2 separate regions of the Homo sapiens genome follow, and region 1 is linked to region 2. The links come from fine-mapping of genetic effects on gene expression. A gene starts in region 2. The other region holds a variant in brackets. All regions are shown on one strand. Distances are from middle to middle.

What was found. PIP is the estimated chance that this variant, and not a neighbour inherited with it, causes the effect.
Region 1: its variant is the best candidate, but not a certain one, in a credible set for the expression of BICRAL in whole blood (INTERVAL, PIP 0.85).

The regions. Positions count from the first base shown.
Region 1 is chr6:42,856,737-42,862,110 of GRCh38, reverse strand. BICRAL (BICRA like chromatin remodeling complex associated protein) reads right to left here. Exons shown (of 13, transcript NM_001393499.1): 10 at 4,875-5,020; 11 at 1,755-1,849. Among named protein-coding and RNA genes, the nearest start is that of RPL7L1, 20 kb to the left of the region's middle. The variant G/C (reference allele first, on the strand shown) is at 2,244.
Region 2 is chr6:42,780,060-42,785,433 of GRCh38, reverse strand. BICRAL (BICRA like chromatin remodeling complex associated protein) reads right to left here and starts at 3,382. Exons shown (of 13, transcript NM_001393499.1): 1 at 3,333-3,382. It overlaps LOC401261 (a long non-coding RNA gene), which reads right to left and starts at 1,938. Exons shown (of 2, transcript NR_134654.1): 1 at 103-1,938. RefSeq lists enhancers at 1,748-1,817, 1,194-1,883, 1,838-2,027, 1,884-2,573 and a silencer at 2,108-2,447.

The sequences.
Region 1 (5,374 bases), 77 kb before region 2:
TCCGCCTTGGCCTCCTCAAGTGCTGGGATTACAGGCATGAGCCTCCGCACCTGCCTGAGAACAATTATTACAGACTTTGGTGGCATTATTTTTTATTGTATTTATTTATTTTTAGACAGAGTCTCGCTCTGTCGCCCAGCCTGGAGTGCAGTGGCACAATCTTGGCTCTCTGCAACCTTCACCTCCCAGATTCAAGCAATTCTCCTGTCTCAGCCTCTGGAGTAGATGGCATTACAGGCACGCACCACCACACCCAGACAATTTTTTTATTTTTACAAGAGACAGGGTTTTGCCATGTTGGCCAGGCTGGTCTCAAACTCCTGACCTCAGGTGATCCACCCACCTCGGCCTCCCAAAGTGCTGGGATTACAGGCGTGAGCCACTGTGCCTGGCCTGGTGGCATAATTTTAAGTAAATATAGATATATTTAAGTAAATACAGACACACGGATACACATTTACTCTATGTTGTATATGTGTATAATATAGCTCAACCAATCTCCCAAGGTACATTTTCAAAGTTGATATCAAATTGAAAATGAGTTATAAGAGACCAATTGATAGGTTAAAGCCTATATGATTTTAGAACTGCTTCTCAAATCTCAGGTTCGGTCTTTCTATCATTTTCTGAGGTATCTTATTCTCACTCCTTTCTCTATTTAACTGGCACTTCAAATGAATTGCAGTTTCTATCTGGGATGATCAAAATGTTCTGCAATTAGACAGTGGTGATGACAATATGACCTTGTAAATGTATTAAAAACCATCAAGTTGTACACTTCATTTATTTATTTATTTTTGAGACGGAGTCTCACTCTGTCACCCAGGCTGGAGTACAGTGGTGCGATCTCGGCTCACTGCAACTCTGAACACTGAAATGTTTGTATTTTAGTAGAGACGAGTTTCACCATGTTGGCCAGGCTGGTCTCAAACTCCTGACCTCAGGTGATCCATTATTTTTCATTATTATTATTATTATTTTATTGAGACAGAGTTTCGCTCTTGTTGCCCAGACTGGAGTGCAATGGCATGATCTTGGCTAACTGCAACCTCTGCCTTCCAGCTTCAAGTGATTCTTCCGCCTCAGCCTCCCGAGTAGCTGGGATTACAGGCATGCGCCACCACGCCTAGCTCTTTTTGTATTTTTAGTAGAGAAGGGGTTTCTCCATGTTGGTCAGGCTGGTCTTGAACTCCCGACCTCAGGTGATCCACCCGCCTTGGCCTCCCAAAGTGCTGGGATTACAGGCATAAGCCACCATGCCTGGCCTCAGTTGTACACTTTAAATGTAAATTTTATGGAATGTCAATGATCTCTCAAAAACAAAACTAATTTTGACATTTGTCACCAGCTTATCTGTTCAGATGTGCCTCCAGTCCTTCTCCCACATCTCTGGGTTGGTGAAAGGCGGTAGATGGCATCAGAGTGTGGACCAGGGGTCAGATGATCCTGGCTCGTATCCGAGCTCTGCTAATTACTCTGCAAACTTCTTAGCCATCTGTTCTCGAGCAAGTTACTTAACCAAAGCCCTGGTTTCCTTATCCGTTAAACAAGAGAATAGTACTGACCCACCAAGTAAAGTACAGCAAATGTTCACTGCTGTTTTTGTAGTAGCAGCTAAGCGTAAGTTTTTCTACAGTGTGAAATATCTGTTACTTTTACATTATATTCTATAATTCCTTGACCTTTCTGTCTCTGATTTAGTGGCTGTGACCTGTAAAGTTTTAAAGAACAAATATCAGTAGCATGACTTTTACCATGGCATCTTCTAGGAGCAGGCATCTGTATTTGTTAAGCATAGCTTGGGTCCTTTTTAGGAGCTGAGTGGCAACTGTCTCAAATTCATTGTCCACTTTAAAAAGAGAGAGACAAAGAAATAGTGAGAGACTGTAAATCACTGACTAGGTCTTCTGTTTCTTAAGACTGAAATACATTACTCTTCTGTTATTCAAACATGGCTTATCTGGGGCAATTTTCTCTTCTTAGATGAGCTTTTCCCCGGCTAAGCATCATCCTTCTACACTGCATTCCCTCACTGTCCACTGGTCATGGAAACTCATTTTATTACTAACTCTTTTAACTTTAACTAGGAAACCAAAAACATAATTACTTTGATATCACCTATAAAATAAAACCATATAACAGACTCGCAATAAATATCAATGAGTAGGCCGGGCACGGTGGCTCATGCCTGTAATCCCAGCACTTTGGGAGGCCGAGGTGGGCGGATCACGAGGTCAGGAGAT[G/C]GAGACCATCCTGGCTAACATGGTGAAACCCCATCTCTACTAAAAATACAAAAAAAAAATTAGCTGGGCGTGGTGGCGGGCACCTCTAGTCCCAGCTACTCGAGAGGCTGAGGCAGGAGAATGGCGTGAACCCAGAAGGCGGAGCTTGCAGTGAGCCAAGATCGTGCCACTGCACTCCAGCCTGGGCAACAGAATGAGACTCTGTCTCAAAAAAAAATATATATATATCAATGAGTAGAGAATGATCTGCTAGTTTAGATGACCTAAGCCTAATGGTATGAAAAACTAAAATAGCTGAAACAATGAAGTCCAACTGTCTGGACTAGGTAAACCAGTTTAATGTAAAGACACAGCTTTACATTAAACTGTCATGGTCATGTGGCTCTGTCCTCTGTCTGTTGGTCTCCAAGGATTTGAACACCTTCTAATTCATTCTTCTTCTCAGTCTTCACACCCACTGTGGGTTTTTTTTTTTTGAGACAGAGTCTTGCTCTGTCGCTCAGGCTGGAGTGCAGTGGCGCAATCTCAGCTCACTGCAACCTTCTCCTCCCGGGTTCAAGTGAGTCTCCTGCCTCAGCCTCCCGAGTAGCTGGGACTACAGGTGTGCACCACCATGCCCTTGCTAATTTTTTTGTATTTTTAGTAGAGATGGGGTTTCACCATGTTGGCCAGGATGGTCTCGAACTCCTGACCTCATGATCTGCCCACCTCGGCCTTCCAAAATGCTGGGCTTATAGGCGTGAAGAACCATGCCCAGCCCTTTCACACCCCCTGTTTAACGCTGGATCTTGACCCTATTCCTTGGTGTCCTAGGGAAGCCCACAGTGGACTCACAGAAACCACTGTGCCCTGAGATTAGAGGTCCCTGCCAGGAGGAGTAAGACTTGTAGCAGCTGAGGAAGGGATTAGAAAAGAGGAGGGCACTGATACAGCCAGGCCTTAGCGGTGGTGGTGGGAAAGAGCATGGCCAGGCATCAGGACAGAAGGAGTTCTAGGTTTGGGGAAGGGGCTCTTATCTCTAAATTATTATTTATTTATTTATTTATTTTTTAGATGGAGTTTCGCTCTTGTTGCCCAGGCTGGAGTGCAATGGCACGATCTCGGCTCATGGGAACCTCTGCCTCCCGGGTTCAAGTGATTCTCCTGCCTCAGCCTCCCGAGTAGCTGGAATTACAGGCATGTGCCACCACGCCTGGCTAATTTTGTATTTTTAGTAGACACAGGGTTTCTCCATGTTGGTCAGGCTGGTCTCGAACTCCTGACCTCAGGTGACCCACCCACCTCAGCTTCCCAAAGTGCTGGGATTACAGGTGTGAGACACTGCGCCCAGCCTTTTTTTTTTTTTTTTTTTTAAAACAGAGTCTTGCTCTGTTATCCAGGCTGGAGTGCAGTGGTGCGATGTCCGCTCACTGCAACCTCTGCCTTCCAGGTTCAAACGATTCTCCTGCCTCAGCCTCCCAAGTAGCTGGGACTGAAGGCGTGTGCCACCACGCCCAGCTAATTTTTGTATTTTTAGTAGAGACGGGGTTTCACCATGTTGGCCAGGCTGGTCTTGAACTCCTGACCTCAGGTGATCGGCCTGCCTCAGCCTCCCAAAGTGCTGGGATTACAGACGTGAGCCACTGTGCTCAGCCTTTATCTCTCACATTTTTGTCAGTTTCTTGATGTGTGGCCAATGCTCTGGACTCATTTTGGAATCTTAGGGAATGCTTTTGGGAGCTCAAGTGCCTAATTCATAAAACTATTAGAAACAGTTTGGCCAGGAGTGGTGGCTCATGCCTATAATCCCAGCACTTCCGGAGGCTGAGGCGGGCCAATCACCTGAGGTCAGGAGTTCAAGACCAGCCTGGCCAACATGGTGAAACCCCATCTCTACTAAAAAAATACAAAAATTAGCCAGCCGTGGTGGTGGGCGCCTATAATCTCAGCCACTGGGGAGGCTGAGGCAGGGAGAGTCACTTGAACCTGGGAGGCAGAGGTTGCAGTGAGTTGATCGTGCCACTGCACTCCAACCTGGGTGACAGAGCGAGACTCCATCTCAAAAAAAAAAAAAAAAAAAAAAAAATTCAGGGTATGCATATGGCCTAAAGGCAAGGACTATGCAAAACCACTGTGTAGAGTGTCTAGTGCAAAGCCATCCCATCTGGAGCCGGCAGTCCATACAAAGCTTTGGATTTACTGTCCCTAATTTGTCAATAAAATACTCTGACATTAGGGTACCCTCCTAAAAAATATATATATATATATATATATTTTTTTTTTTTTTTAAGAGACAGTGTCTCCCTATGTTGCCCAGGCAGGAGTGCAATGGCTATTTACAGGCGTGATCATAGCACACTATAGTCTCAAACTCCTGGGCTCACATGATCTTCTTGCTTTAGCCTTCTGAGTAGCTGGGACTACAGGTGTGTGCCCCTACTCTTGACTTCCCTTCAAAAAATACTGAGAAGTGTAAGTCACAACCTTAAACATGGACTGGGAAATTGAGTAAACAGGGAACAAGTTTGGTCTGTGATTAAAAACAATAACCTGCCTACCATCTGGGGGTGATGTGGCTCTTGCTTTTCTGGGGGGTGTCCATGGAGGGTTTCCTGGTATCAGAGTGGTGCCTTAGGGTCCCAGCCTGCTTACCTTTTCTCAAGTCTTCTTCAGTGGGCATGGAGCCCTGGCACACGTGGTAGGAGAGCAGTCTCTGTACCGCATCACTTAGTGATCGGAAGTGACTTTTGTCTGGTGTCACAGTGTGGGCTTGGTCCCTCTGCAACTGCTGGAGAATGCTTTACAAGGGAAATGGTCAATGTCAATGTAAAGTCATGTTAGGAAATTAAATCTAGTCATATTTATTTGCATGCAAATAAAATAAGATATATAGGAATAATACGGCAGTTTTTTAGTTTTATATTTTTTATACCATAGTGGGTTTATAACTTAGTTTAACTAGCCCCACAGAGGACTCAAACTATGACCCTGACCTCAAAAGCACAGGTTCCCACCAATCATTTATGTGTTGGCACCCCTATAAACCTTGGCAGTGCCTGACCATTGGCCAACTAAGTTCATGCTAACATTTCTGTTCTAAACATGGGAGTTTACCAAACCACGCTTTTCCTCAGAGATTCTTTGTCTCTGAA
Region 2 (5,374 bases):
ACCTGCCACCACACTCGGCTAGCTTTTTTGTATTTTTAGTACAGACGGGGTTTCACCACGTTGGACAGGCTGGTCTCTAACTCCTGACTTCAGGTAATCCGCCCGCCTCAGCCTCAAAAGTGCTGGGATTACAGGCATGAGCCACCGTGCCAGGCCTCAAGGCTACGTTTGTTACACAGCTGTCTTGACTAAACTAGATGGCCTGGCTAGACCTAGAAGCCTGTATGTTGTATAACTTCTCAATAGAATGAGACAACATACTTTAAAAAAAAACGTACTGAGATTTTAAAGTCTTAGGATACCTAAACCTTTTTCTCTGAGGAAATAATTTCGATTTGATAAATGGCAGCTACAAGAGGAAAAACAAAAATGAGACTAATGTGAGCAAAAAACTACTGAAACTCAAAATTACATGGACCTCAATTCTCATGTTCCAATTCAAAAAAGAGCAGAACAGTGCATAGCATAGTACAAGACAGTCCAAACGTGTGTCTGTGTCACTGGAATCACCTGGAGAGCTTTGGAATACTAGATCTTTGGATATAGCGGGTGCAGGGTGGGCCAGAATGTCAATATTGAACATCAAGAAGTTGGAGTGCCTGACACATTATTAAAAGACCCAGTTGGCCCTAGCAAATGATGGTGGAAGAGGTGATGTTACAAATCTCTATTTAAAAACATCTCCCAAATTAATTCTGATGCTCACATTTGGAAACCATAGGTGTAGGGGGAAGAATACAGCTTTTGTGATCCAATGGCAACTTTACTACTTAAAACTGCAAGACCTCGAACAATTACTATACTTCTATGAACGTTAGTTCATTCCCCGGTAGACAGATCATAAAATCACTATTTCTGGGCTGATATAATAGAAATTATACAAAGCATCAGGCACAGTTCCTGGCATACAGCAGGTATTCAATATATAATAGGTCTCATTAAATGGTCTAAAACATCCACTATGTATATTTATAAACACAAGGACACACCTACTGGCACCACGGTGTTATTTTTCTACACTAGAAATTAACTATTTACTTTCCATGTATGTGGACTTCTAGAGAGATCAGAGCTTTATAGACCTTTCCCCTCCTCTTTTCAATAATAATGTAAAAGTTAAACCCCTCCCCCATCTCTAATAGATACTACCAACAGATACTTACATGGATGCTTTTAATAATGCAGTTTTGCTTTTTAGAAGAGTTTCAGACTGTTTTAAAGCGTATTTAACTTTTCAGATTAGAGTTCTAAGAAACTGTTTTAATTCACTGCCATTTGAAGTAATATGAAAGCCAACAAAAAAAGTTTCAAAAAACTGGAACCCATCACCTTCCCGTAATCTGACAACTAGTAAATGTCTCCTCAGGGTTGTTTTAGAGTAAAACTAAGAAACGAAGCGTAGGGTACCCACAGAGAACCATGCTACCGGAAGGCAGACAGACAATGTCCTGGACTCTTTTTTTTAGTTTTGTAACCTGGTTGGACTCTACTTTCAATAACTGAAGAATTAAGGAAAAGGCTCAATGCCCTGCCCCCACGCCGGGCCAGAGAAGACAAAGACGTCCACTCTCAGACCGCAGGAGAGAAAATGGCAGGAGCGCCTCACCTCCAATTTCGACTGGGAGGAGTGGGGGTGCGGGGTCAGGGAGGGAACCCATCAGCCGCGAGGCTCGACCCCCAGCCCCCTTCTTCCATCACAAACAAGTGGTTAGGAGGAAGAAGCTGGCCCCAGCCCTTCCCGCTCCGAGCCGGCGGCCTCGTCTTTTGGGTCTGGGGGCGTGGGGAAGGAGAAGGCCGCGCGACCCCAGTCCCATCTCCAGAATTCAGCACCCTGCTCTCGGCTCCCGCTAGCCCCGGGCCTCGCGGCGCCCTGGTCATCGAGATGTCCTCGGAGGGCGCCGCCCGCGCCGCGAGAAAGATGGCGCCCGCCGAGCAACTGCGCCACCAGCCCTGGCGACAGGCCAGGCCCAGCGCCATCTTAGCGCCTTCCAACCGCACCCCCCCACCCAATATCCCGCATTTGGGGCGACTCGGGGGGGCGCGAACAGCATAACGCCCGCGCGCACTCGGCCAAAAATGCGCCGTCCCAGCCGCACATCTCTTCTGGCCGGCGCGGCGAACAGCGCGGGCCTCGCAGGAGACGCCCGGCTGGGCCGCCGGTCCTCCGCGCGGCTGGGGGCTCGGCCGGACGCGGCCGCGGATCCTCGGCGGTGCTTCGAAAAGGCAGCGAGGCGGCTGGGAAGGGGCAGTCCCGCGGCAGGTGCGCGCCGCCGCCGCGGGCTCGGAGCGGGAGCGGGAACGGGGCCGGGGCGACTCGCCTGCCCCGAGCTCTCCCCGCCGCACCCCGGACCTGCTCTCCTCGCCGCGGCCGCCCGCAGATGCGGCGGGAATGGGGAAGCCAGGATGAAAAATAAACCCCGTCTCCGCCGCCTCCCTCCCCACCCTCTCCCCTCCCCCTCCCCAGACGCGGGGTCCATTTTGCCGAGAAGAAAGAAAATGTGATTCACACCCTAGAGCTTCCGAGAGAGAAAAGAAACGAGGGGGGGAAAACAGAGGGGAGGAGATTGGAAAAGCTTATTTTTCTTCCTCGCCCGCCGTCACTCCAGGCCCTCCCTGCCCCCTGCTCGCGGCCCCGCCGCGCCGTCTTCCCCTCGCCGAGCCCTGCTCCCTCCTTCCCGGCTCCCGGCGGCTCCGGGGGGCGGAAAACACACTCACACTCGCGCACACAACTAATTTTAAACCGGCTCAATCAATGAGTCATTAAAAGGCTTCCCTCCCCTCCCCTCCCCACCACCAACCGCCACGCCACCCCCTTCCCGGGCTCTCCCTCTCCCCGCTCCAGAAATTTGCATCCGCGGAAAAGAAAAAAAAGGAAAAAGAAAGGCGCCGGGCCCCCACCCCGCCGAGGCGCCCCCGGCCCGGCCTCGCCGCCCCCTGCCCGCCTGCGCCCCCGCCCGAGACACTGAACTTGGTCTTCCCGGGGCCCCGGCAGCGCTGGGAAAGGCATAAACACTCGATTCCCCTTTTCTCCGTGTCCATTAAACATCCACCCACCACCACCATCACCCACCCACAAACCCACCCCCCCCCAAAAAAAAAAAAAAAACACAGCCTTAGCCAATAGCTCTCTGGGCTGAAACCTAATATCCTGGTTTTGGCAACTCGGTGTTTAATTTGCTCCTTTCTTTTCAGTCTGGAGACAGATCTCCAGCCCCCCCTCCCTCGCTTTTCCCCTCCCCGAAGGAAAGAGGCAGAGGAAGGAGGTTGTGTGTTTTTTTTTTCTCCTTGAAATTTTTATCACAAAATTATAATACACTCAAAGGGAAACTCACCGTCATGAAAAAGCAGTGCCTTGTCAACGGGGTTTCTGCGCCATCGCAACAGGGGCGGCGGCGGCGGCGGCGGCGGGCGCGGGGCCGGGGGCCGGAGCGCGGGAGCTCCCGGCCGAGCGGCGCCGGCCACACGCGCTCCGCTCTCTCTCTCGCTCACCCCCGCGCCGGGCCGGGGCGCCGCTCCCCGCGCCCGCCCGGCCTTCATGCTCTGCGCCCGGGCAAACCGCTCGCCTGCTCGTCTACCTCCAAACTTCGGTTCTCGCCTGGCAAAAAATGTGGAGATTAGGATTTTTTTAATTTAAAAAATTTTTTTTTTTTTTTTTGGAAAATCAAGCTGCAAGGATGTTCATTCGTTTCCTTTGGGATTCTTTTCAACTTCAGAAATGTATTGGTTTATTCAAGAAACAGTTTTATTTGGCTTTAAAACAATTACTAAGATCCACGAGGTGCGTGCTAATTCTCTTGCAGGCTCTCTCTCCACACACACACACACACACACACACACCCACCCACCCACCCAGTTTAACTTGACACGGGAAGGGGGGAGATTAAAGACAAAAAAAAAAAACCCTACAAGATTTGTTTAGAACTCTAATTAGAGCAAGCCTCAGTGAATACGTTTTGCATATGCTTTTTAAAAACCAAAACGACTTTTAACTTAGTTATTAGGCAAATAACTGGTTCATCCTAACTTTCAAATGTACTAAGCTTTCCTTTGCAACACTCTTTGTCCATTCCAAAATTCTTGAAACCTTACCTGTGAAGCCCGTATGTGAACATTAAAAAGGAAAACAAAACTTCAGTGACTAAAAGGAAGGTGAGGCAGAGTAAATCACTCTCAAAACATTCATTTTCTACTGCCTTCTCTTTATGTAGATATCTTTTATCTCTATATTTGCGGAATTTTCATTACATAACCCCCTCATTCTTAAAAGAGAGCTAGTCAATCTTTTAACATTCTTTGGTCCAAGTATAACTACCACCTATTTTTAATCTCAAATCTCAAATTGTTGAAACTTCTCTGTAAACTATCTAGTATCCAAAGTATTTAGATTATGTGGCCCAGGCCGGGCGCGGTGGCTCACGCCTGTAATTCCAACACTTTGGGAGGCCGAGGCGAGTGGATCACCTGAGGTCAGCAGTTCGAGACCAGTCTGGACAACATGGTGAAACCCTGTCTCTACTAAAAATACAAAAATTAGCTGGGCGTGGTGGTGGGCTCCTGTAATCCCAGCTACTCGGGAGGCTGAGGCAGGAGAATCGCTTGAACCCGGGAGACAAAGGTTGCAGTGAGCGGAGATCGCGCATTGCACTCTAGCCTGGGCGACACAGCAAGACTCAAACAAAAACAAAACAAAACAACAACAACAACAACATTACGTGGCCTGGAGTGGGAGCAGGTGCCTTTGTAGTCTAGGTTAACTACAAATGCCCACAAAATATACTAGGGGTTTTGTTGTCTTTTATTTTAAATAAACATCAAGGATAGGTAAAAGGTGAATTGTACAGAATGTAATTCAGGTTTTAAAAAATACATATTAAGCCTAAGAAATGTTATAAATTATTTTAAAATTCATTTGTAATGCATATAGCAATAGGATCCTGCTGATAAACAGAATGCTCAGCTGCTCTGCCTATGGAGTAGCTATTCTCAAATGGCTCAAGCCCATCTCTCCCAGATATTTGGTGAGTTCTCAATAAAACTCTCTCTAGATTAAAATTATTTAAGTGAAATTATTGTATGGCTTCTATATCCCCTTAAGCATTAAAAAAAAATGTAATGGTAGTACACCTTTCTTGCATATATAAGGATACTGTAACTGGACTATGTTGCATAAATTAAATCTGTTGGGGCCGGCATACAATGTTGTCATATTCAACACAGAAGATCTTTTTAGTCAGGGTACAGTGGTTCAAGCCTGTAATCCTAGCCCTTTGGGAGGCTGAGGGAGGAGGATCATTTGAGGTTAGAAGTTTGAGACCAGCCTGGGCAACATGGTGCGAGATCCCATCTCTAAAAAAAAAATTAAAAATTAGCCAGG